Linked DNA regions of Homo sapiens: all the other regions are reported to be linked to region 4. Evidence: microRNA targets listed by miRTarBase, many of them from high-throughput screens and not tested one by one. Region 4 holds a microRNA gene; each other region holds the end of a gene's coding sequence.
What was found. The annotated mature microRNA hsa-miR-8485 reads CACACACACACACACACGUAU and lies in region 4 at 1,349-1,369, opposite strand. An mRNA with a match to its seed (bases 2 to 7 or 8) in the 3' UTR can be bound and repressed. Matches are read on the target gene's strand: a 7mer-m8 pairs with bases 2 to 8, a 7mer-A1 pairs with bases 2 to 7 and ends in A, and an 8mer does both.

Region 1 (4,053 bases), not on the chromosome of region 4:
CCAAGATGCCCAGATCCCGCCCCAACAATGCTCCACCCACTCTGGTTGTTCCGCGTCTAGGGTCCCACCCTCAACCTCCCGTAGATACAGGCGAGGGGGGTCCCAGGCCACGCCTCCTCCGTATTATTCCTCCATCACAGCTTTAGTTCTTTGCCTATTTCTCTCTTGCGATCCGCCTGCTCGGCCCTGCAACCGTGTGTGACTGGAATTCCTAGGCCACGCCCCCCATGAGCGACCCGTCTCAGCGTCTCTTTGGCCTTTTTCTTTCTGGTGTTTTTTTTTTTTTTTTTTTTTTTTAAGACAGGCTCTTGCTCTCTTGCTCTCTCACCCAGGCTAGAGTGCAATGGCGCGATCTCGGCTAACGGCAACCTCCGCCTCCCAGATTCAAGCGATTCTCCTGCCTCAGCCTCCTGAGTAGCTGGGATTACAGGCATAATTTTTGTATTTTGTATTTTTTTTAGTAGAGACGGGGTTGTGCCATATGGGCAAGGCTGGTCTCGAACTCCTGGTCTCAAGCGATCCGCCCTCTTCTGCTTCCCGAAGTGCTGGGATTTCAGGCGTGAGCCACCGCGTCCAGGCTTTTTGGCCTACTTTTATCCTGGGTCCCCGTCCCTGGGACCATGAGGCGCAACCTAACCCACCCCTACGGCCAATGCCTGGCTAAGACGTCACTGTTGTTCCCAGGCCACGCCCACATCGCGCTCAGCACTGCCTCTGGCCTGCCTGCTGTCTCCTTTCTGAGAGAGCCTCTAAACTGAATTTCGGACTCTTCCTACACAAAGCACTGCCCCTCGTGGTTCTACCCGGGCACTGCCTTTCTGGGTGCCTCTGTTTTTTCCTGAACATCCTTGGAGGGCAGGGGGTGGGTTCTGCTCGTGGAGACATCCTTCGTGTTGCTCATTCCCCCACCAGGTGGCCCTGCTGCAGTTGATGGAGACGCCAGAGCTGGCGGGGCAGGAGGACGCTGTACGGATGCAGCAGCTGAAAATGAAGTGAGCGCTGCTGCCCAAGCCGCCTGGCTATGCTCGATTTGCACCAGGGTTGGCACGGTCAGGACGCTGCCAGCAGAGGAACCCTCTGCCAGTGCACAATGGTGTTCTCACCTGGTGGCCCTCAGATGTACACTTCCCCAGAGGGCACAGCCGTGAAACTTCACATCAGTTTCGCTGTGCATTGCTGGGACACTGCTGTATACCTCGACACATGCCAATCCTGCACACGTGGCTGTCCGTGGAGCTTGGACATGCCCCACTGAGCACAGACCTTCAGATGCCTGTCCTCAGCCCCCAAGCACACACACTCATGTACACACACATTTGACAAAGTCACACTTCATAACCTCCTAATGGTACACACCCCACCAAGATGGCCTTTTCTTTTCTTTTTTTTCTGAGATGCAGTCTCACTCTGTCACCAGGCTGGAGTGCAGTGGCGCGATCTCAGCTCACTGCAACCTCCGCCTCCCGGGTTCAAGTGATTCCCCTGCCTCAGCCTCCTGAGTAGCTGGGACTACAGGCGCGTGCCACCACGCCCAGCTAATTTTTTGTATTTTAGTAGAGATGGGTTTCACCATGTTGGCCAGGATGGTCTCGATCTCCTGACCTCGTGATCTGCCCACCTCAGCCTCCCAAAGTGCTGGGATTACAGGCGTAAGCCAGCACGCCTGGTCCTTTATTTTCTTTTCTTTTTTCTTTCTTTTTTTTGAGATAGAGTCTTGCTCTGTCACCCAGGCTGGAGTGCAGTGGTGCGGTCTTGGCTTACCGTAACCTCTGCCTCCTAAGTAGCTTGGATTACAGATGCCCGCCACCATGCCTGGCTAATTCTTGTATTTTTAGTAGAGACGGGGATTCGCCATGTTGGCCAGGCTTGTTTTGAACTCCTGACCTCAGGTGATCTGCCTGCCTCAGCTTCCCAAAGTGCTGGATTACAGGCGTGAGCCACCATGCCCAGCCCAGATGGCCTTTTCTCTCAGCCCACTGTGACCTATGGGGCCACCCCTTCTCCCTAGCACCTAAGTGTTCCCTCTTGCTGCTAGTGCTGCCTGGAGGTTTGGCGGCGGGCAGGAGGGCCTGGGGCTCACCACAGCCACAGCCCTCTTGCAGCTTCGCGGCAGCAGCTAATTCACCCCATCTGGGTTTTATTTATAGTTCCCATCCGCTCTTGTAGGGTAATTAAAACCATGGAGGCGATCAGCGAGGTTCTCCAGGACCTTAGGTTTGATGCGGAATCTGCCGAGTGATGGCGGCTCCCCAGGGATGCGCCGAGGGAGATGGGAAACGGGGCGGATGGCGCCCAGCCCAGCCCTAACTGCCAGCTGGCTGGGGTTGCGCCCCACTGCGCTGCTGACCTTCCTGCAGTTCCAGACACCTCCCACAATAAAGAGCTCCTCCTCTGTAGCCGCTCTGCCATCTCTGTGTACAAGGGTGCTGCAGCCAGTGTGCCTAGGGAGGGGGCCCCCACAGGGCCAGGGATTGTGGGTAGAAGACTCCCACCCTCCCTAGAAACTGAGGTTTTTTTGCTTGAGACAGGGTCTTGCTGTGTCACCCAGACTGGAGTGCAGTGGCGAGATCGTGGCTCACTGCAGCCTTGACTTCCCCAGGCTCAAGCAGTCCTCCTGCCTCAGCCTCCCAAGTAGCTGGGACTACAGGCACATGCCACCACAAGCCCAGTTAATTTTTTTTTTTTTTGAGATAGAGTTTTGCTCTTTTTGCCCAGGCTGGAGTACAATGGTACGATCTCGGCTCACTGCAATCTGCACCTCCTGGGTTCAAGTGATTCGCCTGCCTCAGCCTCCTGAGTAGTTGGGATCACAGGCATGCACCACCACGCCCAGCTAATTTTGTATTTTTAGTAGAGACGGGGTTTCTCCATGTTGGTCAGGCTGGTCTTGAACTCCTGACCTCATGTGGTCCACCCATGTCAACCTCCCAAAGTGGCGGGATTACAGGCGTGAGCCATGGCGCCTGGCCAATTTTTTGCTTTTAGTAGAGATGAGGTCTCCCTTTGTTGCCCAGGCTGGTCCCCAACTCCTGGCCTTGAGCAGTGCTCCCAGCTTGGCCTCCTAAAGTTCTGGGATTACAGGCATGAGCCTTTGCAGCCAGCCAGCTCAGGTATTTTGAATCACATTCTCCAAGGAGTTCAGAATCAGACCTTGCAAATACTGGATAGACAGTCTGAAGTCCTGGGAGGTGAAAATTCTAATCTCAAAGGGTCATTAAGACGCCTCACATTCCCCTCAAATCTCACAGCCCCCACCCCAGGCCAGGCAGGCCCCAAACTCACCTTCACAATCACAGCACCTAAATAGCTCATTTATTTAAAAGGACTCTTTTGGAGGGGCCCTAGGTAATGGGGAGTAATGACTCCCCTTCTCACCCCCAGCCCTGGCAGGGGTTCTAGGCAACTCAACCAACCCTCACACACACACACACACCCACTGGGGTGCACCCAAAGGTGGCCTCACGTGGGAGTCAGAGCTGTTATGGCCGTTGGAGCTCAGGGGCCACCCCAGCTCCTGCTGAGGGTGGCTCAGGTGCCCTGAAGTGAGGGTACAGAGGTGGCCCCAGTTTGGGTTCGGCCTCTGCGTCTCCACGTGGCAGGGAGGGTGGCCTGAGCCCCTACAGCTTATCTGGCAGGACCTGCAGGCAGAGGGGAAGCCAAGCTAAGCAGGGAGTCCAGGAGAGGGCCGCACCACAGAGCCACTGAAGGAGGCTTCATTCGTGTCCTGTCCCCACCGCTTCTGGCTGTGTGACTTTGGGCAGGGTCCTGCCCCTCTCCGGGCCTTGGCGAGGCTATCTGAGCTGCAGGTAAAGCACTTGGCGCGGAGCCAGTATGCAGTAGGCGCCCATGCGTGCTAACTAGGGTGAGTATGTTCATTCATTTCGGAGGAGATTCCACTTCGGACATTTTCAGGGCATTGAATGTTCTTAGGCTAAAGGAGACAATGCCAGTTATACAGTAAGTGCTAAGTAAATGCTGATGAATAACAAAGGAAGAGGACGGATTCCATCTCAGCGACTCTAAGGCTGGGGTTGGGAGGCGTGGGGGTGTGAA
Region 2 (4,065 bases), not on the chromosome of region 4:
GGGCTTCATCTGCTGATGGTGCTGGTGCCCGGAGGGGTCTCCTGGTGCACAGAAATCTGTGCTTAGTGGCAGTTCCAGGGGTGCTGCGGTACTTCCTGGGCTGATACAGGCTTTGTGGGAGTGGGAAGCTCCTGGGCGGAGGCTGCAAAGCTGCAGCAGGGCCCCGAGAGCTGGGTCTCCCCCTGAGGGGCAGGGGATTCAGTTAAATGAAGCTCTGGGCGGCCCCTGCCACGACATCTCAGATGCCGGACTTGGAGCTGCGCAGTGGGCCTCCTGCCTGGCTGCTGGGATGGGGCGGTGGCCGTGGGGCGAGGCCTGGGGCCCTTCTGGGGTTGAGCAGGGAGCAGCTGCCGGCTGGGCAAGTTTTCCTGGGTCACCCACCCTCCACTGTGGGTCACCTCCTCTGACCTGGGCTTGTGTCTTTCTCTCCAGTTTTCCTGGATCACCCGCCCTGCACCGTGGGTCACCTCCTCTGACCTGGGCTTGTATCTTTCCCTCCAGTTTTCTGGGGTCACCCGCCCTCCACCGTGGGTCACCTCCTCTGACCTGGGCTTGTCTCTTTCTCCCCAGGAGCTGCTGCTCTTCCTCCAGAACCTGCCCACAGCCCACTGGGATGATGAGGACATCAGCCTGTTGCTGGCCGAGGCCTACCGCCTCAAGTTTGCTTTTGCCGACGCCCCCAATCACTACAAGAAATGAGCCCAGGCCCACCCGCAGCTGGCCTCACTGTCCCGGGTGGCGCGCCCCACCTGCCTGGCTGGTGGTAGGCCCCTGTGAGCTGGTCCCGGGCTGCTAAAAGGCCTTGTGAGGTGGCCCCACCCTCCAGGGGAGCTGGTGAAGATGGGCCACAGACCTGGTCTAGGGCTGACAAAGACAGGGACAGCCTTTGTTTTCTGAGATACCAAAGAGAGCCAGGGGAGGGCCCCGGGTTCGGCGGCCAGAGGCAGGTCAGGGGTCCCCTCTCCCTCTCCCTGCAATGTCCTTGCCAAATGACTGCCTCGTGCTGCCCCTAGTCCGGGGCAGCCTAGGAGGCCGACCCTCTTTGGAGTCCTGCTGTCTGGGTGCCAGGGCCGGAACGAGGTAGTGGCCATCTCATACCTACTCTGAAATGCAAAACTTCTATTCTGTTGAGTGAAAGAATAAAATGTAGACAAAATCTAGACCGAGACGTTGCGCTGACCCGGGGTCTCTGTGCCGCGAGGTCCCCTCACAGCTGTATTTCACTGCTGCTGGCCCTTTCCCTCCGTGTGTTTTCCTGCTTGCTTGGTTTAAACGTGGCTGGGAAGCTGAAGGCTGGAGTCCAAGCCGTGAGCCCGCCGAGTGCCTGGGAGGCCGTGGGACCAAAGGCTGGGAGCAGAGGGAGGCCTCGCCATCGCCTTACTTTCCACCTTGAACCTCTTTTACAAGAGAGAAACCCCCACCTCCCTGAGGTCCAGGGCCAAGTGGCCCCGCCACGCAGGTAGGCGCCGGCCTCAGCCAGAGCCCCTGGAGGCCCACCCAGGCTGTCGGGCCATGTTGGGCTGGCAGACGGGCAGGGGGTCGCGTCCCTGTCATCAAAGCCCTGAACCACAGTGCTCTTCTCACCGCAGCCTGGAAGCGGAATGAGCTTTTGGAGACTTCCTGGGACTTGCTGTCCTTGTCCAGGTCTGCCAGGTGTAGGGGAGGTGTGACTGGTTCCATCATGGACCGGTTCCTCCATGGACCGGTTCCTCCGTGGACCGGTTCCGCCATGGACCGGTTCCGCCATGGACCACTCCTGCCCTGGACCACTCCTGCCCTGGACCGGTTCTGCCGTGGACTGGTTCCCGCCGTGGACCAGTTCCCGCTGTATACTGGTTCTGCCCTGGACTGGTTCCCGCTGTGGACTGGTTCCTTGGGGCTCTAAGTGCGGAAGGGCCCAGAGCTGGTCCCTGCCCAGCGCCCTGCTAGGGCTGTGTCCTTGGCTCCAGGGGCCTTGGGACTGGCTTCCCAGCGTTCCCTCGGTGTGTCACAGGCTGCATGACCCCTGGAATGCGGGCAGGGCCACAGCCACAGTCTGTCTGATCCCTGAGCCCAGGACAGGCTCACGTCCTCAGCGACCCACTGGTGACTGACTTCCCAGACTCTCCTCTGTCCCTCAGGAGCAGCCGTGTCCTCTCCCAGGCCCTAGGACACTGCCAGAGACTGTGGGACATACAGGCATAAGTGATGTGTGTGTTTCTGCTTCTGTTTTAAAAATCCAGGGTCATTACACACAGCATGGAAATTAGCACAAAATGCTGTGCAAACGTCAGATGCTCCCAAACCAGCAAAGGGATGGGCTTGCTTCACATCAGATGCGGGCACGCCTTACCCCTGCCTTCCGTGTCCCCACCCCAGGGTCAAGGGTTCCTCAGACCAGCCATGCCTCCTCCTCCTGCCGCCTCCTTTTCTAGATGGGGAGGGGATTCCGTCACAAGAAGAGCCGCCCCTCGGCCGTGTGCAGGAAGCCCCATGTCGCTTTGCCGAGATCAGCCCTGGGAGGATCCCCTTCTCCAGCTCAGATCATGCCGTGTGGCCAGAAGGCTGCGGACACAACTGACCTGCTTCTCGAGGTGGTTGATGTTTTAAACAGGAAGCTCCACGGAGTTCAGCCCTGTGTGCATTTCCTCATGTATGTAAACGCCAAGACTGAATGTGAGAGGTGTTGGCCGCGGGCCTTAAGTCTGAGCAGATCCATCTGGAATGTTCGGGGTGTGCTGTCTGGATGTGGTGCGCTAAAAACACGGAATAAAGATCAGTGACAAAGCCGCGGCCTTGGCCTGTGATTCGAGGACTTGCCCATCGAGGACAGGGGCACCCTGGCCCAGCCCTGCCGAGGGTCTGAGCTCAGGGCCATTGCGGCGCACCAGCGTGGGCCCGGCAGCACCCGTGATCTCGCTGCCCCCCGCAGGACCTCTCAGGGAGATGGGGCTGCAGCTGCTCAGGTGGTGCAGGGATGCCACTTGCCCGGGCGGGGCAAGACTCAGAAACCAGTCTGACCCCCGAAGCCCGGCTCTGCACTAGCTGGAACACGGGAGTGTGGGGTCCAGGCTGGCCCCTGTCAGGCTCCTGAACAAGGGACCTCCCCTTGGGCCACATCTGTCAAGCACCTGCTTTGAAAAGGGCTGTTCCGGGGTAGGCACCAGGGTCTGGGGTCCCCCCCGCCTCTCCTGGGATACACTTGCCTCACCCTCACCCACACACTGAAACACCCTCCTTGCCCTGTGTTACTGAAGCAAGGCCCTTCAAAGGGCCTCAGTTTCTCAGGGCAGCTTTCCAGGTGCGCCACACCCCTCTGAGTAACCCCGTCTGGGTGCCCCACCCTCAGGTACCCCACACCCCCCTGGGTGCCCCACCCTCGGGACCCTCCCTTGGCAGCACTTGGCTTTCCACTGCCTTGTGCTGTCCGCTGACGGGTGTGGGGTGTGCTCCTGTCCCCGCGGGTGTGGGGTGTGCCCCTGTCCCCGCGGGTGTGGGGTGTGCCCCTGTCCCCGCGGGTGTGGGGTGTGCCCCTGTCCCCGCGGGTGTGGGGTGTGCCCCTGTCCCCGCGGGTGTGGGGTGTGCCCCTGTCCCCGCGGGTGTGGGGTGTGCCCCTGTCCCCGCGGGTGTGGGGTGTGCTCCTGTCCCCGCGGGTGTGGGGTGTGCACTACTGACCGGCTGTGGGGTGTGCTCCAGTCCCCACGGGTGTGGGGTGTGCTCCTGTCCCCACGGGTGTGGGGTGCGCACTACTGACCAGGTGTGGGGTGTGCTCCTGTCCCCGTAGGTGTGGGGTGTGCTCCTGTCCCCACGGGTGGGCTGGTGGCTCCACAAAGTGGGAGTAGCCTCTTCACCTCTCTTTCCACAGTGACCCAGTGCGGAGCTGAGCCAGGCAGGGCTGCCTTCCTGGGCCCGGTGGCCCGGCACATGGGCTGACCTCACTGTTGCCTGGCTGTGGTCTGCAGGGTCGTAGGCTGCAGGACGGAGATCGGCTGTCCCCAGCAGCCACCAGGTGTTCAGCTCCTGACTCCAGGTCACAGCCCAGCAACTGCCATTCACCTTCACGATTCCCCGGAGTTTGCAGCTCAG
Region 3 (4,065 bases), not on the chromosome of region 4:
AATTATTTTAATGTAAATCATTTCAACATACCAATTAAGAGAGACATATGCAGAATGAATAAAAAAAGCATGGCCTGAGTATATGCTGTTCAAAGAAACTGACTTCATAAGTAATGATACAGGTAAGCTTTAAAATAAAATGAAGAAATATTAACCATGCAAACATTAATCAAAATATGCAGGAGTCACTATGAGAACATCAGGTAAAGTATTGACAAGACTATTAAAAGGCAAAAAAATGACATCACATAATGACAGAAGAGTCAATTCACCACAAAGACTTGGCAAACCTACATGTATATGTACCAAACAATACAGCTTTGAACTTTGCAAACAAAAAGTGATAGAACTTGAAAGAGCAACACACTTCCACAATCATGTTCAGGACTTTTTGTTGTTGTTGTTGAGACAGAGTCTCGCTCTGTTGCCCAGGCTGGAGTGCAGTGGTGAGATCTCAGCTCACTGCAACCTCTGCCTCCCACGTTCAACTGATCCTCCTGCCTCAGCCCCCCAGCAGCTGGGATTACAGGCACACGCCACCATGCCTGGCTAATTTTTGTATTTTTAGTAGACAGGGTTTTGCCATGTTGGCCAGGCTGGTCTCGAACTCCTGGCCTCAGGTGATCCACCTGCCTTAGTGGTCTCAAAGTGCTAGGATTACAGGCGTGAGCCACTGCACCCGGCCTATGTTCAGGACTTCAACACCCCTCTCAGCAACTGACAGAAATGCTGGACAGAAAATCAGCAAGGACATAGCTGACTTGAATAACAATGAGCAGGATCATAGAGACATTTATAGAAACTCCACCCAGTAACAGCAGAACACCCATTCTTTTCAAGCAGCTATACGAAACAAGATAGACCCTATCCTGGGTCATAAAAAAATGTTAACACATTTAAACAGTCAGATCAAACATGGAACAAATTAGAAATCAGTAACAAATATGCCAAACACCAGAAAATTAAGCATACTATTAAATAATTCATGGCTAAGAGAGAATGTCTCAAAAAATAAAAACTATTAGAATTAAAATGTAATGAAAACATTAAAACTTGTGGGATCAAACCAATAGTGATATGAGGTAAATTTATACAATGTAATGCTTACATTAAAAAAGCAAAAAAATCTCAAATCAATAATCTAAAACCCCACCTTGAAAAGTTAGAAAGAGCCAAATACAACCAAAGCAAGTGGAATATAATACCGATCAGAGCAGAAATCAAAGAAATCAAGAATAGAGACAAATCATTAATATAAAGTGCTAGTTCTCTGAAGTGAGAGATGAAGCAAAAATTACATCTTTCAGCATGATGCGCAATAAAACTGATAAATGTCTAAGAAGACTCAATCATAAAATGAGTATGCACATTTTAAATATTAAAAATAAAAAGAAGTGCAGATCCTGCTATCAAAAGAATAAGGGAGTGCTACAAATACAGATGAAATATTCCTTCAACAGGACAGACTATCAAAATTTATTACACAAGAAATAGATACTTCGAATAGTTCTACCTATCCAATAAAATAAATATGTAATTTAAAAGCCTCCAGAAGAAAAATCTCTGGCCCAATGGTTGACTAGAGGTCATCAAACATGACAAGAACAAATAACACCAATTCTACACAGTCTTCCAAAAATTAGAAGAGAACTCCTTCCAATTCATGTTGAAAGGTCAAGATCACCTAGACATCAAAACCACACATAAGACATTTAGAACATAAGAAACAAAAGAAAAAAGAACTACACATTATTAGCCAATAAATTAGAGGAATATTTCCTCAACAAAATACAAACAAAGGGAATGATGTCAAATGATATATAAAAACAATTATACTCTACAAACAAGTATGGTTTATTCTAAGGATGCAAGGCTGGCTCAATATTCAAAACTTGATCAAAGCAATACATTCCATCAATAGGATGTAGAAGGAAAATAGCATAATGACATCAACTGGTGGAGAAAAAGTACTGAACAAAATTCCACACTTATTCATAGCAACACAGAGTCTCAGAAAACTGGGAACAGAGGAAATTTTTTACCCTTATAGAGGACATATGTTTTATAAAACTTACATTATACTTCATGATGAAAAACTGAACATGCTGTGCACTGTGGCTCACGCCTGTAATCCCAGCACTTTGGGAGACCCAGGCAAGCAGGTTGCTTGAGCCCAGGAGTTCAAGACCAGCCTGGGCACCATGGTGAAACCCTGTCTCTACCAAAAAATACAAAAATTAGCTGGGACTGGTGGTGCATGCTTGTAGTACCAGCTACTGGGGGGTGGTGAGGGCTGAGGTGGGGGGATCACTTGAGCCCAGGAACTTAAGGCTATGGTGAGACAAGATCGTGCCACTGCACTCCAGCCTGGGTGACAGAGCGAGACCCTGTCTCAAACAAAAAACAAAAAAACAAAAAACTGAACATTGTCCCCCCTACTATCAGGAACCAGGTAAGGATGGCCTTTCTCACTATTCCTATTCAACGCTATAATGGAAGTCCCAGCTTGTGCAATGCAATAAGACAAACAAAAAGGAAATAAAAGGTATATTACAGGTAAGATGAAAGATAAAAAATGGTCTGTATTTGCAGATGACATTTCTATATAGAAAATTCCAAGGATTCTGTCGAAAGAAATAGCTAAAAATAATAAGTGAACTCAATAAGGTTGCAGGGTAGCAAAACAATGTCCAAAAATATTATATTTCTGTATACTACCAAAAATTGTGTGCAATTCAAAGTTCAAACATCAATGCCATTTACAATCACTCAAATTACACACACACACAAACAAAAAAGCACCCTAGGATGCAAATTCTAACAAAAATGCATAGGGATCTATACGCTGAAAATTTTTAACATTAATGAAATACTTTAAGGAATGCTTAACTATTATAAATTAAGAGGCCTACTCCTGCACTCATGAACTACAAGACCCAACATAGTAAAGATACCAATTCTTAACAGATTAATCCACAGACTTAACTCAATTTCTGTAAAAATCTGAACAAGACTGTTTTGTAAATAAGTACAAACTAATCCTAAAAATTATATGGAATGTCAAAGGAACTAGAAATGCTGTCGATTTTAAATAAGAGCAAAGAAGAATCACTTTACTCAATTTAAAAATTTACCACTGACATTTTGAGCTAAGTAATTTTTAAAAATTTAACAAATAAAAATTTACCATATGGCTACAATGATGACGTAAACCAAAAGACGGGCATCAAGACAAAAGCCTGAATGTTAACATGTGTATCCTTACTGACTTAAACGTGAGTATTTCATGGCTCAAGCCCCCTAAGTTGTCATAAAGTTATGCTTCTCAAGAGTAAGTACTATTGTGGAATACAGAAGATGTGCGATTAAAGTTTGCATACTTTTCCTAAACTAACTGTTCTGACACTGGATAGCAATAAATGTACATACAAGCACATAAAGGGTCAAGGTTCTTTACCTTGAAACATTTCCCTTCCCCCAAATACACTAAGAAATCCATGACAAAGCGCCATAGGCTTGGCAGAGAAGCCTGAAAAGATGTGTGCTTGCATTTCATTTTTTCTATGTCCCCTCCTCCTTTTAAAAATAATTCCTGAGATAAAATTGCACTGTAAACTAAGGAGAAAGATGCAGCTGAAGGTTCTCCTATGTGCACAATAACCACTGGGTCTCTCTCCAGGATAAATTATCAGATGGAGAATAAGGCTCTAGACTGAACGAATTTCTAATATGACTCTTCAGATGACAAGTAATATTCAGCAACAGAAGGTTTTCTCACAGTGAAGACACTTGTGGGGTTTCTCTTTGGTATGGTTGATCAGATGCAGAGGAAGATGTTTCCTCTGGCAAAATATTTGCCTCAGTGGTTACATTCAAAAAGTCCTTCCCTAAAAGAAGTTCTCGAAGGGTAACTGAGGTTTGTCCACTTGTAAAAGGTCTTCCCACATCTGTTACACTGATGGGATTTTTCCCAGTATGCATCCTTTGATGCTGAGTGAGGGACGAGCTGCGACTGAAGGCCTTTCCACATTCACTACATTTATAGGGCTTCTCTCCAGTGTGGAT
Region 4 (4,065 bases):
GGCTTTATTCTACATTTTAGCAATAGTCTTTCCTTGGCTTATAAAAAATTAATTGCGGGGTATTCTCTTGATTGGGTACTTTAGATCCTGGTGACTGTTCTAACTGATGGGGCTGAAAGACAGTTCCCTTATCTCATAGCCAAATCACCTCCATGCAAATTGATCTGGGAGTGCCTTTAGAATAAACACAGCTGGATTCTCTGCAGCCATTTATGGGTCCAGTTTCCTAGGCTTAATTTTGATTTATAACTACTGAAATTAAATTAGCCATCTTCACTGCTTAAGGGTGGCTTTGATTTCACCAGTGCAGTAGGGAGACTATTTACCAACATATTTTATCAGTAACATTTCAACCTGGGTAAGGGGGTGGCGGTGGGGGGAAGGCATCTTATCTTTGGTATTTGTACTTGAGATTCCTTCAGAATATTTTAATTGTATTATTTACCGACAAATGTGAGGATTAGATTGTCAAATCAGACTCACATGAATTAAAGATCTTGCCCAGCATCAAGCTTTGCTAAATAATTTCAAGGATATAAGCTATCAAGTTCAGATAAGGTGCATCATATAACATAAAGTGGTGTACCTTATGTCATATGCTCCAGGTAGCCCTGCCTCATAGATCCTGGGTTCTATTAACTATGGGTAATCCCTTAGCCAGAGACATCTTGCTAGGGACAGAGATATAGTCTCTTATTCATAGTAAGTAACATTAGTCTATTTCCATTTGACAAAGAGATTAGACTAAGTCTTTGCTTTCCTCTAGGAGCACAAATTATTGTACAAAACGAGAAACAAAATTTGAGAGATTAAAATATGTGAAATATGTTAATAGTTCTAAGAAGGCTTTTATCTAGAACACGGTAATAAATGTCGACGTGCTATAGTAGGAAGAGTTGAAGATAAATGGTTAGATATCGCTTTTTATCCATATGACTTTGTGCATTAGTTTTTTGAGCCTCAGTTTTACTAATATTCCAAAGGATTAGGGAAATAAGCCTAACCAGAGTGACTCTGATTTTTTTTTTTTTTTTTTTGAGATGGAGCTTCGCTCTTTCACTCAGGCTGGAGTGCAGTGGCACAATCTTGGCTCACTGCAACCTCTGCCCTCCAGCTTCAAGCGATTCTTCTGTCTCAGCCTCCCAAGCAGCTGGGATTACAGGCGCCCACCACCATGCTTGGCTAATTTTTGTATTTTTAGCAGAGATGGGGTTTCACCATGTTGGGCAGGCTGGTCTTGAACTCCTGACCTCAGGTGATCCATCCGCCTCAGCCTCCGAAAGTGCTAGGATTACAGGCAAGAGCCACCACACCCAGTCGACTATGGAAATTTTAAAAGACAGTACATATACGTGTGTGTGTGTGTGTGTGTGTGTGTGTGTGTGTGTGTATGTATACACATATGCTATATACACACACACACACACGTATATCACAGAACTGAAGACCATAAAATGTTCTATACATATGAAAAAATGAGAATTTGAAATGTACATAATTCTTCACACAGATAGCTGACAGTGTTATAAATCTCCTTTCTTATAAATAAGAAAAACAGTCTCAGAAGTAAGTAATATTCTGATGGAGAGTTAGAAAAGAAAACCTGTCTTACAACTCTTTAAACATGCTTCTCCTCTAAGCTAAATCATAGTTTGCTAAAGAAGGTCGTGATAAGGTAGAAGAAAGACAAGAAAAGCCAAGGCAATGGGGTGAAGCAGGCGGAGAAAACTGTTTATGCCTCTTCTTCCAATGTCTATTTATTTTCTTTGTGGTTCTGAGCAACTATTTCTTCTTTTATCTTGCAACTGTCAAAGCAGCTCTCTGTAGAGAAACCAGCAAGCACACCCATTAAAACCAAAGCATGAATTTTCGGGTGAGGATCAGTGAGGCTCTCTTAAGAATACCTGAATTTTCACAGAGATAAACATATTTATTTGATTTAAATGGTAGAAAGTGTTAATTACTAAGTTTCATATACTACCAGGAGTCATAGAGAAGTCATTTTGGAGACCAAGAGTATATTCCTAGACCATGTAATCACATCATTTGAGTAGCTGCTTACTGAGTTTATTCACAATGAAAGCCTGATACATAAATTCTTTAAACAGAAACCAGTGGCATTGTTAATTTCCACTTTTGTTTCCAAATTGTTGCTTTTGTCTCATTGAGAGCATATTACTTACTTCAAGCACCTTAACAAACAAAGCTGGGTCATACACAAACGTCCTACTGTACCAGCAATAAGACAATATGAATACCCTGCAACCTCTCAACAACCAGAAGACAAAGATGTATTTGGAAGGGGCAGATGGGAAGTGAAAAAGAGAAATAAAATATACTTTACAGGGAATATTTTGCACACGTAATTCTGAGTGTTATATTTTTAGCTTGTATAAATAAACTTCATTAGTCTTCATTTTGAATATACAGGAAAAGTTTTTTTAGAAAAGACTCATTGTCACAAGCTGATAAGGTAAGTTAGGACAGTATATGATTAATATGCTACAATGATGTCTAAGAGAGAGGATGCTCATTAAATTTGTGTGTGACAAAAGTTGGAAAGAGTGTTAAGACCTTGAAATACTGGAGCATCTTTCAAAGTGAAACTTGACAAGTTAGAGAAATGGTCAGATAGAGAAATGGATTTTAATCAGACTGAAAGGAAAATTAATGTATTGGTTTTGTCAGTTGTACCTTCATCTTGAACGTAATGACTGCCTGTTACTTCCTCTGTGGTTTCATCCGAACCTAACGCGACACTCCCCTGAAAGGTCTCCTCTCTCCCTTCCTTGCTCTTCTGTAGCCCATGCTTCACTTCTCAACTATGGTGATGTTTTGAAGATGTGAATTAGATTACATCATTCTTTTCTTCAAATCCTCAAATAATATTTAGAATATAATTCAAATCCTGGGTTGCCATGGTCTACAAGGCCTCAAATAAAATAGGTTCTGCCCACATCTTTGTTTCATTTTCTTTCTTTTCTCTGCCTCCAGGTTGGCACTTTTGTTCCTTTAACTCTTCAATTTACCTTGGTGCTTTGTACCAGCTGTTCCCCCAAAGTAGACAGCTCTCCATAGCTCTTCACACGGCTGCACTTCCTGCTACTCTCACTTAAAGTCACTGCCTTGAGCCAATTTCGTTAATCTGGCTCTAAATAACAACACAACCCCATCTACACTACAGTTCATCCTAATACCAGTCTAATTTTCTTCATAACACCTATCATTATCTGAAATCATCTTAGTTGTTTCACTTTAGAATCCTCCTTCTCTCATGAGAAAGTAAACATTGTGCGGGCAGGGTCATGGTCTTGTTTGTCCTGTACTTCCCACCCGTACAGCAGTGCTGGCACTTAGTAGGTGCTCAGTAGATATTCGTTGACAGTATAAGACAGAAGTCCTCAAATGTTGTCCAAGGACATTTGGTAGTCCCTGAGACTTTCGGGAGGGCCAAGGGCCAAAATCTTTTTCATCATCTCACAAATATACAACGGTGCTGTCTAGAGGCCAAAGGATATATGCTATCACAAAAGATTGCCTGCAGAAGTAGTTGTGAGAATCTAGCTCTCTTAAGCCAAACATCAAAGAGATTGTCAATAATGTAAAATAAGTCACTCTTCTCACAAAATTATCTTAGTGTTGGAATATAATTATTTTTCATAAAAGTACACAATTTATTTTAACATGCAACATGCAATGTGGTGGCTATTTTAAAATGAATTAATAAATATATAAATGTTTTCTCAGTCAATTCTCAATAGAGTAAACACTAATACATATACATAACCTATACAACAAACATAAACTTCTCAGAGGTTTTCAATACATTTAAAAAGTAAAAAGGGATCTTGAATCCAAAAATGTGAAAACCACTGAAACAGAATCTCATCAACTAGTCTCCATTATTCCCTAGAAAACATCCAGTAGAACTTTCTTCTCCAGTTAAAATTGCCCTCAAAGAAGGTTTTCTCTTTCCTGATATCCATGCTTTTGCTATTCATTGTTTATGAAATGTCTGTCTGTTTCTCTCTTTCTCATTTCTCCATGTTTGAAGTACACTTTAAA
Region 5 (4,060 bases), not on the chromosome of region 4:
CAGCAGAAGTACGCGTACAAGGAGCGGCGGGCCAAGCTGTACGTGTGTGAGGAGTGCGGCTGCACATCTGAGAGCCAGGAGGGCCACGTCCTGCACCTGAAGGAGCACCACCCTGACAGCCCGCTGCTGCGCAAGACCTCCAAGAAGGTGGCCGTGGCACTACAGAACACTGTCACTTCCCTGCTGCAGGGCAGCCCCCACCTGTGAGTGGCTCGAGCCCTGGGGGTGCTCCTGGAAGCCCCAAGAGCATCCAGGATTGCCTCCCAGCTGCCTGGCCAGCCCACCCTCCTGCAACCTCTCACCCGAACACCAGTGATCAGGACTGGAGCCCCCGTGCCTTGGTCTCCCCCCTGGGCACACGTGCTCACTCAGGCCCAGCAATGACCTCTGCTCATTTTTGCATTTTTGACTTATGGGCCGAGGCTGTTCTGAGCCTGGGAAGATGTACCTATGTCAAGAGAAGGGATGAGGCCAAGGCTGCCTTCAATTAGAAGCAGCCGCCCACAGAGACAGGCACTGTGTGCCTGGCAGCAGGACTTCCTACCCAGAGGAGGTTCGAGCTAGGATCCCACTGCCCCCGCCTCTCAGCACAGGGCAGGGGCTGCAGGTCCCCAGTGGACATCAGAGTCAAAAGCACTGGCAAAGGGTACCCCTGCAAACAACTGTGGTGGGGGCTGGCAGCAGACCCCCCACCTGGCAGGGCTTCTAATGCTCAGGGTTCTGGAGGGCTCTGTCCTTCCGGCAAGGAGAGGCACACATGTGTGCCCAGCCGTGTGTGTGCGTGTGCTTGTGTGTGTGCACTGCTGTGTGTGTGTGCACGCACAGGAAGCCTTTCCACATATCACCTCATTTCTAAGAAATAAACTACAAGGTGCCAAGAAGGTTTTATTTCCTTTTATTTTTTAAAGATGACAAATGTACAGATGTTAATATATTTTTGGTGCCAATGGCGATGTTTTTAAGAGTGGGATGGAGCTGGCTTTTCTCCATTCCCGTGCGCTTCTATTTATCCTGGACATTTCAAACCTCCTCTGTGCCTTGGCTCTGGGCGGGGGCTGCCCCAACCCACCCCCGTTCTTTGTACGTGCTGAGACAGCCACTAGAAGATCTTCCTCCAGCGGCGCCCTGGACGGCTGCTCCTGCGAACAGCCCATGGCATCTTCTGCTCTTCCCTCCCGGCTCTGCCCTGCACATCCTGTTGAGCCAAGCCCCAGTGACCCGGAGAGCTGGCCTGATGCTGAGAGTGTGTCCTCCTGGGGCTTTAGGGGGCAGGAAGGTGGGACGAATGACGATGCCCATCCACTACCTGAAGCACTAGGACACTCTTGCAGGGCCAGGCTGGAAGACCGGCCCTTTTCTTGGTTGAGTCAAAAGCCTTAGCACAGTGGCAAAAAATGGGACAGAATGATGACCAGCACCTCAGAAACTTCCAGAGGGAGGAGAGGATTTGATGGCTACCAAATTGTATCTGTTGCCTTTTTTCTGACTTTTTCACCTGACCAGGCTGGGGTTTGGAGTGGCTGTGGGGAGACCCGTCCTGGCTGGCTGGCTGGCTCCCTTGCTCCCTTGCTGCAGCTGGGAAAGGGGTTCTGGGTGTAAAGAGGTGTGCGTCTTGTGGGCCAAAGGGAAAAACAGGCAGGGGTCAGAGCCAGCCTGCCAGAGGCAAATGCAAAAGAGGTCCCCAGAACACAGCCAGCTGGGCAGCCCCTTAAAGCCAAACCCCACCTGAAGCAGAACCACTTTGGCCTCCCCTGCCCAAAATGGGTAGTGTCTACACGTCCCCGGGCTCAGGCTCAGGCCCAGCCCTGGGCTGACCTGAGAGGAAGGCTCCTTCCTGGACTGCCCTCTGAAATGTGTATAGATTGATTCTAAAATCTCTTGTTTCACTTGACTTTAGAGTGTCTGGGACGCTGCTGTATTCTGAAAGTCACATAGCACACAGTAATGTTATCTGGAAGCTCTGTTTTTGTTTACATTTCTGTATCCCTGGGTTGACTGCCAATCCGAGGCCGTCATGAAGCTCTGTGTTGTCTGTTTTATTTTATAACCTTCCTCTCAACTATTAAAATTAGAGATCTAATGTTTTCTGTGTTTCCGATGTTTTTGTCTTATGGGCCCCTTTTTCCCCATGCAGAGAAGTAATGGAAACAATTGACACATTCTTATCCAAACCCTTCCTCGTTACGGTCACTGGGGGGCCCTGGTCAAGACAAGAGCCTGGCCCAGATAGCTTAAGTGACCTGCCCAGGGCCTCAGACAGTCACTGCCTGCTGAGTCCTGGTTTAGCATGCTCTGCTCTCAGCAGCGGCAGCAGCGGGGCGCCCTGAGCTCCATCCATCAGCCTCATACTACCCTGCATCTACCTCTGCCAGGCCGAGACCGCCAGGCTTTATGTAGTCACCCGGGGATCCAGTCTTGGCCTCCCAGGACCCTCCCAGGGTTAGACCACAGAAGGAGCCACAGTCCCAAAAAGAGGGTGCAAAGCTCACATCACTTCTGGTCAGACACTTAGGGACGGCCACACTCTGTGTCCACACACCTAGGGACAGCCATATGCTGTGTCCATGCACCTAGGGATGGCCACACCTGTGCCCACGCACCTAGGGACAGCCACACTCTGCATCCAGGCACCTAGGGACAGCCACACTCTGTGTCCACGCACCTAGGGACGGCCACACCTTGTCCACGCACCGAGGGACAGCCACACCTGTATCCACACACCTAAGGATGGCCACACCTGTGTCCACGCACCGAGGGATGGCCGCACCTCTGTCCAGGCACCTGGGGAGAGCCACACCTGTGTCCATGCACCGAGGGATGGCCACACCTGTGTCCAGGCACCCAGGGACGGCCACACCTGTGTCCATGCACCGAGGGACGGCTGCACCTGCACAACCCTTGTGCTGTGCCATGCACACTCAGAAGTGTGTTATGTATATTGGCTCACTTGACTCAACTCGCTTCTGAGGCAGGTTCTGTGACCACCCCCACCCTGGCAGACAGAATTTGGGTAGCTGACACAGTGTCTCACAACTGACCAGCAGTGGAGCTAGGCTGCCACCCGCCTGGCCTGGCCCAGGGTCTGCTCGGTAACTGCTCACGCTATGGATGGAGAAAGCAGGAAGGGACGTAGGGTCCCTCTAGGCAATTCAAACTAGGAAATTTGGAGCTTGCCTGGCTTTCCCTATCGCTTACCAGGATTGCTCTGGGAGACTGATCTCTTTGGGGGCCCTGGTCCCTGGGTCCCAATTCGTGTTTTCCACCATGGCCTGGCCAGATGGATAAGAAAGCTACAGGTCTGGGACGCTGGTCTTGTTCCAGGAGGCGTGGGAAGGGTTGGTACCAGGCGCTGTGAGGCGAGGGAAGACATCCTTTTCCAAGGCTCCCTGTAGCCGCCCACAGGACTAAAAAGGGCCCCAACCAATTTTCTGTCTCTAAATAGCTGGCCATGAAGGATTTCTCTTATCCAGAGAGGCCTCTCTGTGAAAGGCCAACTAAATCCCATTTCCTATCCCAAGACGTGCATCCCGCTGTTGGGAACCCAGGGGACTACCCACCACATGAACTTCAGGAGGCAGGACAGCCTCCAGGAAGCAGGGGCAGTGTAGGGGTGGAAGAGGCTCCCTCTGAGCCTCTGTACTCCCTCCCATGCCTCAGATGAGCTCAGGTGGGTGCCGTGCCCTGTGCCACCCAGAAGAGCTCTTCCCTAGCAGGGCGGGGCCAGTCACATTTCCAGGCCCAGAATATTCTCCAGGCTCTGTTGGATTGTAGCTGTGAGGGAAATGAAAAGTGTACAGGGCTCTGCTGACTGGGAAAAAGAGAGGAGATTATCTAACCCAGAACAAATGGCGTGGCCAAACTACAAACACTATGGAACCCAAAAGCAGTCTTTTGCATCAGAAAGAACAAAGGCTTCTTGGAAGAGGTGGGTCTGCGGCTGGGCTGGAAGAACAGGAGGATGTGAGTAGAACAGAGGAGGAGGTGTTTCGGGGAAGGAAAGTGGGCTCAGACACCAGGGGAGATGAGCGAAGCCAGGAGCGGGGTGGAAGGCGTCCCTGTT
Region 6 (4,065 bases), not on the chromosome of region 4:
CAGTGACCAATGGATGGTCACTGTGAAACTGGGATCCCACTGCATCGCCTTGGCTTCTGTTTCTGCTCTGACTGCAATTGGATTCTGTGTGGCCAGAGAAGCCTTGCAAGCCTTAGCCCATACATGTCATGGTTGCCAACTTACCTAGAGCTGTTGCTGACACTCAGCATCCATCACTGGGGAAATGACTGGCCAGGTTTTAAGATCCAGAGCATGAAAGCATCAGATAAAGGAGACAGAACTGGAAGTGTTTCACTGTATGACTGAAAAATCACACATACATGTGAAAGGCCAGGATGATTAAAATCAAAAAGTGAATAATGGATGAGGTGACTACAGGTAATTTACATTTTATTCTGTCTGCTCATCTATTTTCCAGTTTTTCTACAGTGTATACATTATTTACCAAATGTATATTTTAAGATATTTTAAAATGTTCACTCTTTGATTCAGTCATTCTACTTCTTAGAAACATCTTAAAGTAATAATACAAGAAGTATGCAAAGATTTAGCCACAGGAATGTTTATTCCAAAAACGTTTACACTACCATTAAATTAGAAAACCAAAATGCGTAAAGAGGAGTATAAAGTTGGACTCTAAAGTCATTAAAAATATTTAACAAAATGCTTACAGGGCATTCTTATGTGGGGAGAGAAAGCTTACAAAGCATTCTGTACAATATAATCCCATTTTTATAGATGCACAGAATAATCAAAAGATAAATACCATAGGTTGAGAGTGGTTAGTAGAGGGCCTGGGATTGAGGATTCAAGGCTAATGCTTTCCCCTGGGGGCTGGGGGTGTAACTGAAGTCTACACTCCCAGCCCCCATGGGCCCCAAGCACCCTCACCTGGCCCTCTGCTAAGGGGTAGGAAGGGGGCTGGGAGGAAAATGCAAGACAGGAGGAGGCAATTAAACATGATGGTGCTCAGGCCAGATTCCCTCTGAGGATATCTTCTGAACACAGTTCCAGCACGATCTGAAATGTAATTTCTGTAAAATGCTTTCATTGTTTTTAAAAAGTTAATCCAGATACTGCTGTCAGCTTTTCATAGTATTGGTTTCTGTAATGTCCTAATAGAGCAAAGGAAGGACACTCCTGAAGTTAAAAAGTTTCTACGGCAGGATTTGCAAAGACCAGAAGAAAAAGGTTACATAGCAAAAATTTTCTTCTGGTTATCTTTGGGTGTTTTTTTAAATTTTATTTTATCTGTATATTCTAATTTTCTCACAACAAATATATATTGCTTTTGCATTTTACAAATATACAGAAAATGTAATCTGGAAAAAAGTTACTTTTTCCAGTTCTAAGTTAAATAAGTGAAAGTCACTTTACTGCTTACAAAGAAATCTTTAAATTTGAACTTGGTATCCACCATCTGCAACAGATCATTCAATCTAGGGATGTTGCAGAACAACAGGGACTCCTCAAATCTCACTTTCCTTAGGAATATATTTTTCTAGCTATATTTGACTATGTCCTAATCATGTTCTATTTATTTGTATATCAGAAATAACAGTCATATCATGAAGAGCTACCTTATCTTAGGCAAGTTGCTTTTCTCCTTCCTTTCCAACTTGAAAAACACACTTCTCAGATTGCTACAAAAGGCCAACCTCTCTTTTTTTTCTTTTTTGAGACAGGGTCTCGCTTTCTCACCCAGGCTGGAGCACAGTGGTGCAATCTTGGCTCACTGTAGCCTCAGCCTCCTGGCTAAGTGATCCTCCTGCCTTAGCCTCCCAACTAGCTGGGACCACAGGTGTGTACCACCATGCCTATTTTTTTTTTTTTTAATTTTTAGAAGAGATGAGGTCTTGCTATGTTGTCCAGGCTGGTCTAAAACTCCTGACCTCAAGCAATCCTCCTGCCTTGGCCTCCCAAAGTATTGGGATTATAGGTGTGAGTCACCACACCTGGCCAACTCTCTTCCTTCTGTATGCACATTTCACCTTTAACATAACGTGTACTATCATCATTATTTTTTTGAGATAGGGTCTCACTGTGTTGCTCAGGCTGGAGTGGAATGGCACGATCTTGGCTCACTGCAACTTCCACTTCCCAGGCTCAGGCAATTCTCCTGCCCCAGCCTCCCAAGTAGCTGCGACTATAGGTGTGCCCCACTGTACTTGGCTAATTTTTTTTTTTTTTTTTTTTGTAGAGACGGTGTTTTGCCATGTTGCCCAGGCTGGTCTTGGACTCCTGAGCTCAGGTGATCTGCCTGTCTTAGCCTCCCAAAGTGCTGGGATTATAGGCATGAGCCACCACGCCTGGTCTGTATGTGCTTTTTAAAAAGCCTATCCCATACTGAATTGTGGGAACCTATGAAGTGTCTCTTAATGTCAATTAAAAGTAACAGTGGCTGCAGATATTGATTTCTGAAAGTACATGAGAATTTGTCTCTAACTATGGTTGAAACAACAAAACCAAATCTGAATCAGGTAGAGGTCTACCAGACACAAACTCTGAAATTAAACACTAATAGGACTGTTACTGGGCAGGGGGGACTCCTTTGAGTAAAAAGGTAACATACAGTTTTCCTAGGTGGCTGGTGCTCTCCCCCAACTTTCATACTGGAACAAGAGTTAGGCTCAGGTTTACATGATCCTCTACTATTCTTTTGTGAAGAATGACAACTGAGTCAGTTGGTTGAGCTTGAAGTGTTCCAGTCCTAAGGGATTCACTCTCACTTAATGTCATATATTGGTAAGGTGCCTACATGAGGTCAGTGTTTGTGGCTACATATAAAGACCAATGATGAAATGAGGAATTATTTTTTTTTCTTTTAATAAGGGATGGGGTCTTGTTATGTTGCCCATGCTGGACTCAAACTCCCAGACTCAAATTCCTGGGCTTAAGCTATTCTCCTGCATCAGCCTCCCAAATAGCTGGGACTACAGGTGCATGCCACCACACCCAGCTAGAGGCAATGATTCTTAAAGTCTCCGCTGGCTATCTAGGACTCTTATTAAATATCCTGTTACTTTAAAAAGGCCATCCAAATATATTTTCTTGAAAGAAACATTTATTTATGATCTTTATTGGTGAAATAATTTCAAACAAATCCAGAACAGGTTCTCACACTTTGAGCCTTTAGTGCAAAAACATTATGCCATGCGGGAAATAAAATGCTTATCCAGTGGAGCGCTCCCCTGATGCATTGAAATATTAGGATACTCAAGCAGAAGACGACTTATGTGACAGAAATCTGCTCATAAATCTGCTTGAAAAAGGGCATGATAAACCTCATATTAAGGTTTCTCACAACATAAATATGCTTAAGCAACTTAATTCCAACTTAATTTCAAAACACCCCAGGAATCAACTATCCCTTTAAATAAAAAAAATAATCAATTTATATTCTTCTTAAAAGAACTCCAACAATTTAAAATAAGTTCCAATTCCATATATATATATATATATATATATATATATATATATATATATATATATACACACACACGCACACACACACATTTATAACTTAGGTGCTCTTTTGCGCTATATACTTTAATTCATGCAAAAGTGATAGAGGACTGGACTTGAGGCTCTACAGAGGCCTTTCTGAGAAAGCTGTGTAGCTCCTTACTCTGGCGAAGAACAAGGGGGTGTACATCTTGTCAATCTCAAAAGCACTGACTGCAGTCTCACCAGTTGATCTGTAAAAAAAAAGCACAAAATTACTAGTATGAGGAAATTTCAATTCATTTAAAATCCTTGTGTGTTTGGGGAAGGTTATTCTATGCTTTAGCCTTTTTTATTTTTAATTCATCTTAGGAAATTCTATATAATATAGGCATATTGTAGAAAACTCGAAAAATTTAGAAATGTATACAGAAACATCACCACAATTCCAACACTCAGAGCCATATGAAGGATATTTTCTAGTGTTTCTTGAGATCAAACTTAGTAATTCTTTTTATTTCATTTAATTATTTGTATTTTCCCACATCATTATTTTTCAGAAACCATTTTTAGTGGCAGGATGATATTTCACTGTCTGCTTGTACCACAGTTTACTTAATTGGAGATTTAGGTTGTGTCTACTATTTCTCAATTAAAAAT
Region 7 (4,065 bases), not on the chromosome of region 4:
AGGCTCAGGCAGGAGAATCGCTTGAACCTGGGAGACGGAGGTTGCAGTGAGCCGAGATTGCGCCATTGCACTCCAGCCTGGGCAACAAGAGCAAAGCTCTATTTAAAAAAAAAAAAAAAAAAAAAAAAGGGCTCACTCTTGCTAGACACTGGTAATGCTGTCGTGAGTCACATATGCTCCTTGCTCAAAGACTCATGCTTTGGGCAGGAAAACCTCTAAGTTCAATATAGTGCTAACAAAGAATGCTGCAGTTCATACTGTGGGAAATTATTCTTCCTGGAGGGCTTGTCTGAGCTAGGTATTTGTCAGAAACGCAGAATCACTAAGAGGATTCCAGACAACACATGGAAACACTGGCAGGAATGCTGGGAGAGGAGGGACAGGAGAGTCAAGCAAGAGCCTCACAGGTCACATGAAGAAGCTTGAATATTACCCTCTTCACAAGGGAGAGCTTTGAAGGGATTTTCAGCTACAGAACTTTTAGAAAGATCTTGGATGTTGTGAATAGGATGAAGTGAAGCAAGCAAAGAGAAGTTACTGGCCTGGCCAGGATACCATTGAAGTAGTCCCTGCTAGAGATTAAAAGAGTCCCAGTCACAGTGCAGTAGGGGGAGGGGGAGGGATGGGACAGGATATCCAGAAGCCTGACTGGACAAGATGATTAATTAATTTGATTGGGGTATGGATAGAGATGGAGAAGGAAGTAAAGCAGATGTATAGGTTAAGTCCCAAGTTTGTAAACAGGGTGGCTGTTGGAGTGGTCATCCCAGATGGGGAATGTTGAAGGAATGGGTTTGGAATAGGGGAATTAGAACACAGTGACATCCAGCAGATGTCTGAATATAATTAAGAATACCAAAGAGTAGATTTCCTGGACCCCTGGATGGAGAATTTTACAGTCCTTTTGCTTCAGTGATGGTGGAGGCCACGGGAGTGGTGAAGAAGTTATCCAAAGTGAGATTTTATTGTTGTTGTTGAGATAGAGTCTTGCTCTGTTGCCCAGGCTGGAGTGCAGTGGCACAATCTCAGTTCACTGCAACCTCCACCTCCTGGTTCAAGCAGTTCTCCTGCCTCAGCCTCCCAAGTAGCTTGGGATTACAGGTGCGCGTCACCACACCCAGCTAATTTTCTGTATTTTTAGTAGAGATGGGGTTTCACCATATGGGCCAGCCTGGTCTCAAACTAACTCCTAACCTTAAGTGATCCACCCACCTTGGCCTCCCAAAGTGCTGGGATTATAGGCGTGAGCCACTGCACCCAGCCCCAAAGTGAGATTTTTAAGACAGCATGGAGGACTTTTGTGTTCTGCTGTCCATTCCTTAAATATCAGAACTTACTTACTTACCTATTTGGCCAAGGCCTGGGGGGTTGGGGGAGGGGGGGGTGGGCAGGATAGCACAAATGTCAACTATCAACATGGCAGATTAATTGATCACTACTCCTGCAAGCCCCTGTTGGCAGCACAAGTTGAAAATGGCACTCTTGGGTTCCTGCTTCCTGGAATTCCTACTGTCCATGATCTCATGAGCTAACCCAGGGCCAAGGGAATCACTCTGGGCACACCAGTTTGAGGTCTAAGAAAGATGGAGCTTCCAAAGGCAGATGTAATAGACTGCAGCATTGTCATAATATTGGTGTCTTTCCCTCCCAGACTCAACCCTACTGGAAGATTAAACTCCCTGCCCCATAGAGGGCTTTAGCCAATGAAATGTGAGTGGGATGCAACATCATCATTTATGGAGGATAATTAATTTTTATAAGCCTCCTTATAAGGCTACACCAACTCATCCTTTTCATTCTGCTGCAAAGCCAGCATATTATAGCTCAGCCTACCATGGACATAAATGCAAATGATAACCTTTGTAGTAAGAGCAACATGGAAGTAGGAGGGGATCATGTTAGCACAGCATCAACTAGTAACAGCTGACTGACTGATCCAGCAGAGAAGATCAGTCCCCTAGCATACCTTTTACAATCCTGTCATCTTCCATTAAGAAGAGTCACAAATTACATCAACAACAGTGGTATATGTTTTAATAGTTTTCAGAATATAAGCTGCATAGCTTTTTAGAATAAAAAATGATATAACTTCAGGTACATGCTTTGGGACACTTGGTTAAACAAGGAATCTGTGTCTTTGATGACCACCTCAAAAGGGTCGCAGACTTCACAGTGTAACTTGGAAACAGACAAGGAGATAGATGATTACATCATGACATACTGCCTACAAAAGAACATTCTGACAGAACATTAAGTAGAACAGAGCACACAGTTTCAAGTATTCAGCACTGCTTTCTGGCCAAGTAAAAACTGCCTAAAGATCAGTTTCTTTCGACTGGAAAAAATAGATGGAGCTGCTGAGTTCTGGACACAGCGTTTCTTTCCCAGAATGAGACTGGCTCAGTCCAGCTTGAAAGCAGTGTGAGGAATCACTCTTCCCCTTGACTGTTAAGAAAAAAAAAAATGAACTAAACAAATAAATTACTACAACAACAGGGACCATGGCACTGAATGAAATAAAGGGGCAATCACCTTCCCATCATTGCATAGTCTCCCGAAGCAGCAAGTGTGAAAGAGGATACTGAAAAGCCACTTCATTTTTACACAGCCCAAGGATCGTTTTTATAGATGACCTGGGCACCTATAATGTCCAGTTGCTTTATGAGAACACACACACACCACATTCTTCCTACCCTCTAAGAGAAGGTAGTTCCTTTCACAATAAGAAAACACACCCTCATACTCTCCAGAAACGAGCTGTCTTGGCCACTTGACAGCTTTTGGGCACACACTATGGGCTTGGCAAGGCAGAGCTTAGAACAGGGTCAAAAGGGCAGCTCCCTTTAGTCCTTTATACAAAGGACTGTCAGAGTCCCATGCTCCTGGCAGCATCTCCTCAAGGCACAGGTGCCCAGATCCCCTGCAAAAGAAAACAGGCAGCTGGGCTCCAACGGTGGGGTATGACCTCCTCCCAGGCCAGGGCTTCCAAGGCAGGGAAGAAGGATAACTCTTCTCTAGTTACGAGTTCAGGCACCTGCTGCTGCTTCCAGGTTTGGTATAAAAACCTCAGCCCAGGCAAAGCCGGGAGCCAGAGAGCATTCTGTAGGCTGTAAGATCACGTTGTAAAATAAAAATATTACAATAAAATTTTTTGTAGTTGTCCAAAAGGGAGCACCTGGGTAAGCAATGTGACCTTCTGACCACAGTTAAGTCTCACTTTGGACTCTTCTTTCTGTTCTATGGGTGGTCAGAGGCTGTCACCAACTCAAACCACTGTCTGAGGGCATCGCTGAGTGTCTCAGGAAGTGCGTTTACATCTCGAAGAATGATATAGTATGGGAATGGGAACTCTTCCATGTAGGATCGGATTTCAGGCATCTCTCCAGGTCCTTTAAATATCGGTACTTTAATGTCCAAGATAGAATCCTGTCAACAAAAGACATTTTGAAATGGGGAGGCAGCGATTAAACCAGCATCCTTAGCTAGCTCTTCTGTGATCTCTTTTGCTAACTTTTACATCTCCTGTGTCTTATTCCTGCATATGAACCTACCTTTTATTACTAAGTAAAAGAGAATTTTCAGAACTCTACTAAGAAGGAGGTAGATGTCTTTCTGAGTGCCCCTTCCAGGAGGATGGACACTGAAAAAAAGGAAAAGGGATAGACAGGAAAATCTGCTTTCCCTACAGTGGTGTCTCCCCATCATCCACTTGGAATCATTCACACTAAATCTTTACCTTCCTATCAAGGCCTTAATGTGACCCACAGAGACAATGCTTCCCTGGAACAGAACTGCCCTATAGGCATATTTCACTAAGATGATTGATGCTTCTTGCTGTGAGGAGCTACTGAGACATAAGTTAAGTGTGGCAACACCTAATCTCCATTTCAAAGTGGTCAGTACCCATTATCAAGGCTGCAATACCTGCACTGACTTTGCATAGAGGGAAATGATGACCCACAGAGGATGGTCATTCTGAATCTTGGCTCTCCCACTCATTACCTATAACCTCTATGTGTTTCAGTTCCTTCAGTGTAAAGTGGGAATAATGATCCCTACCTCACT

Region 1: the mRNA of CRLF1 is a reported target of hsa-miR-8485. Seed matches in the 3' UTR shown: 7mer-m8 at 3,426-3,432, 7mer-m8 at 3,424-3,430, 7mer-m8 at 3,422-3,428, 7mer-m8 at 3,420-3,426 and 7mer-m8 at 3,418-3,424.
Region 2: miRTarBase lists TBC1D22A as a target of hsa-miR-8485. Seed matches in the 3' UTR shown: 7mer-m8 at 2,189-2,195 and 7mer-m8 at 2,191-2,197.
Region 3: the mRNA of ZNF264 is a reported target of hsa-miR-8485. Seed matches in the 3' UTR shown: 7mer-m8 at 2,783-2,789, 7mer-m8 at 2,781-2,787, 7mer-m8 at 2,779-2,785 and 8mer at 2,776-2,783.
Region 5: the mRNA of OVOL1 is a reported target of hsa-miR-8485. Seed matches in the 3' UTR shown: 7mer-m8 at 773-779, 7mer-m8 at 789-795, 7mer-m8 at 791-797, 7mer-m8 at 805-811, 7mer-m8 at 807-813 and 7mer-m8 at 809-815.
Region 6: the mRNA of FBXO9 is a reported target of hsa-miR-8485. Seed matches in the 3' UTR shown: 7mer-m8 at 3,470-3,476, 7mer-m8 at 3,468-3,474, 7mer-m8 at 3,466-3,472, 7mer-m8 at 3,456-3,462 and 8mer at 3,453-3,460.
Region 7: the mRNA of MDN1 is a reported target of hsa-miR-8485. Seed matches in the 3' UTR shown: 7mer-m8 at 2,672-2,678, 7mer-m8 at 2,670-2,676 and 7mer-m8 at 2,668-2,674.

Annotation. Positions count from the first base shown.
Region 1 is chr19:18,589,942-18,593,994 of GRCh38, forward strand. It overlaps CRLF1 (cytokine receptor like factor 1), which reads right to left. Exons shown (of 9, transcript NM_004750.5): 9 at 3,296-3,638. The coding sequence ends at 3,625. It overlaps REX1BD (required for excision 1-B domain containing), which reads left to right. Exons shown (of 5, transcript NM_001100418.2): 4 at 913-992; 5 at 2,167-2,396. The coding sequence ends at 2,239. Among named protein-coding and RNA genes, the nearest start is that of REX1BD, 3.2 kb to the left of the region's middle. RefSeq lists enhancers at 1,708-2,231, 3,115-3,616.
Region 2 is chr22:47,172,928-47,176,992 of GRCh38, forward strand. It overlaps TBC1D22A (TBC1 domain family member 22A), which reads left to right. Exons shown (of 13, transcript NM_014346.5): 13 at 571-2,766. The coding sequence ends at 699. Among named protein-coding and RNA genes, the nearest start is that of TBC1D22A-AS1, 260 kb to the left of the region's middle. RefSeq lists an enhancer at 2,924-4,014.
Region 3 is chr19:57,212,691-57,216,755 of GRCh38, reverse strand. It overlaps ZNF264 (zinc finger protein 264), which reads right to left. Exons shown (of 4, transcript NM_003417.5): 4 at 1-4,065. The coding sequence ends at 3,775. Among named protein-coding and RNA genes, the nearest start is that of AURKC, 16 kb to the left of the region's middle.
Region 4 is chr2:50,694,824-50,698,888 of GRCh38, forward strand. MIR8485 (microRNA 8485) reads right to left here and starts at 1,439; the gene lies at 1,349-1,439. The region is part of intron 5 of NRXN1 (neurexin 1); the gene reads right to left.
Region 5 is chr11:65,795,135-65,799,194 of GRCh38, forward strand. It overlaps OVOL1 (ovo like transcriptional repressor 1), which reads left to right. Exons shown (of 4, transcript NM_004561.4): 4 at 1-2,080. The coding sequence ends at 207. All of the region lies in intron 4 of LOC124902693, which reads right to left. Among named protein-coding and RNA genes, the nearest start is that of OVOL1-AS1, 6.3 kb to the left of the region's middle. RefSeq lists enhancers at 606-1,106, 2,686-3,209.
Region 6 is chr6:53,097,316-53,101,380 of GRCh38, reverse strand. FBXO9 (F-box protein 9) reads right to left here. Exons shown (of 13, transcript NM_033480.3): 13 at 508-3,659. The coding sequence ends at 3,551. Among named protein-coding and RNA genes, the nearest start is that of FBXO9, 34 kb to the right of the region's middle.
Region 7 is chr6:89,640,768-89,644,832 of GRCh38, forward strand. MDN1 (midasin AAA ATPase 1) reads right to left here. Exons shown (of 102, transcript NM_014611.3): 102 at 1,731-3,426. The coding sequence ends at 3,238. All of the region lies in intron 1 of MDN1-AS1 (MDN1 antisense RNA 1), which reads left to right. Among named protein-coding and RNA genes, the nearest start is that of LYRM2, 4.1 kb to the left of the region's middle.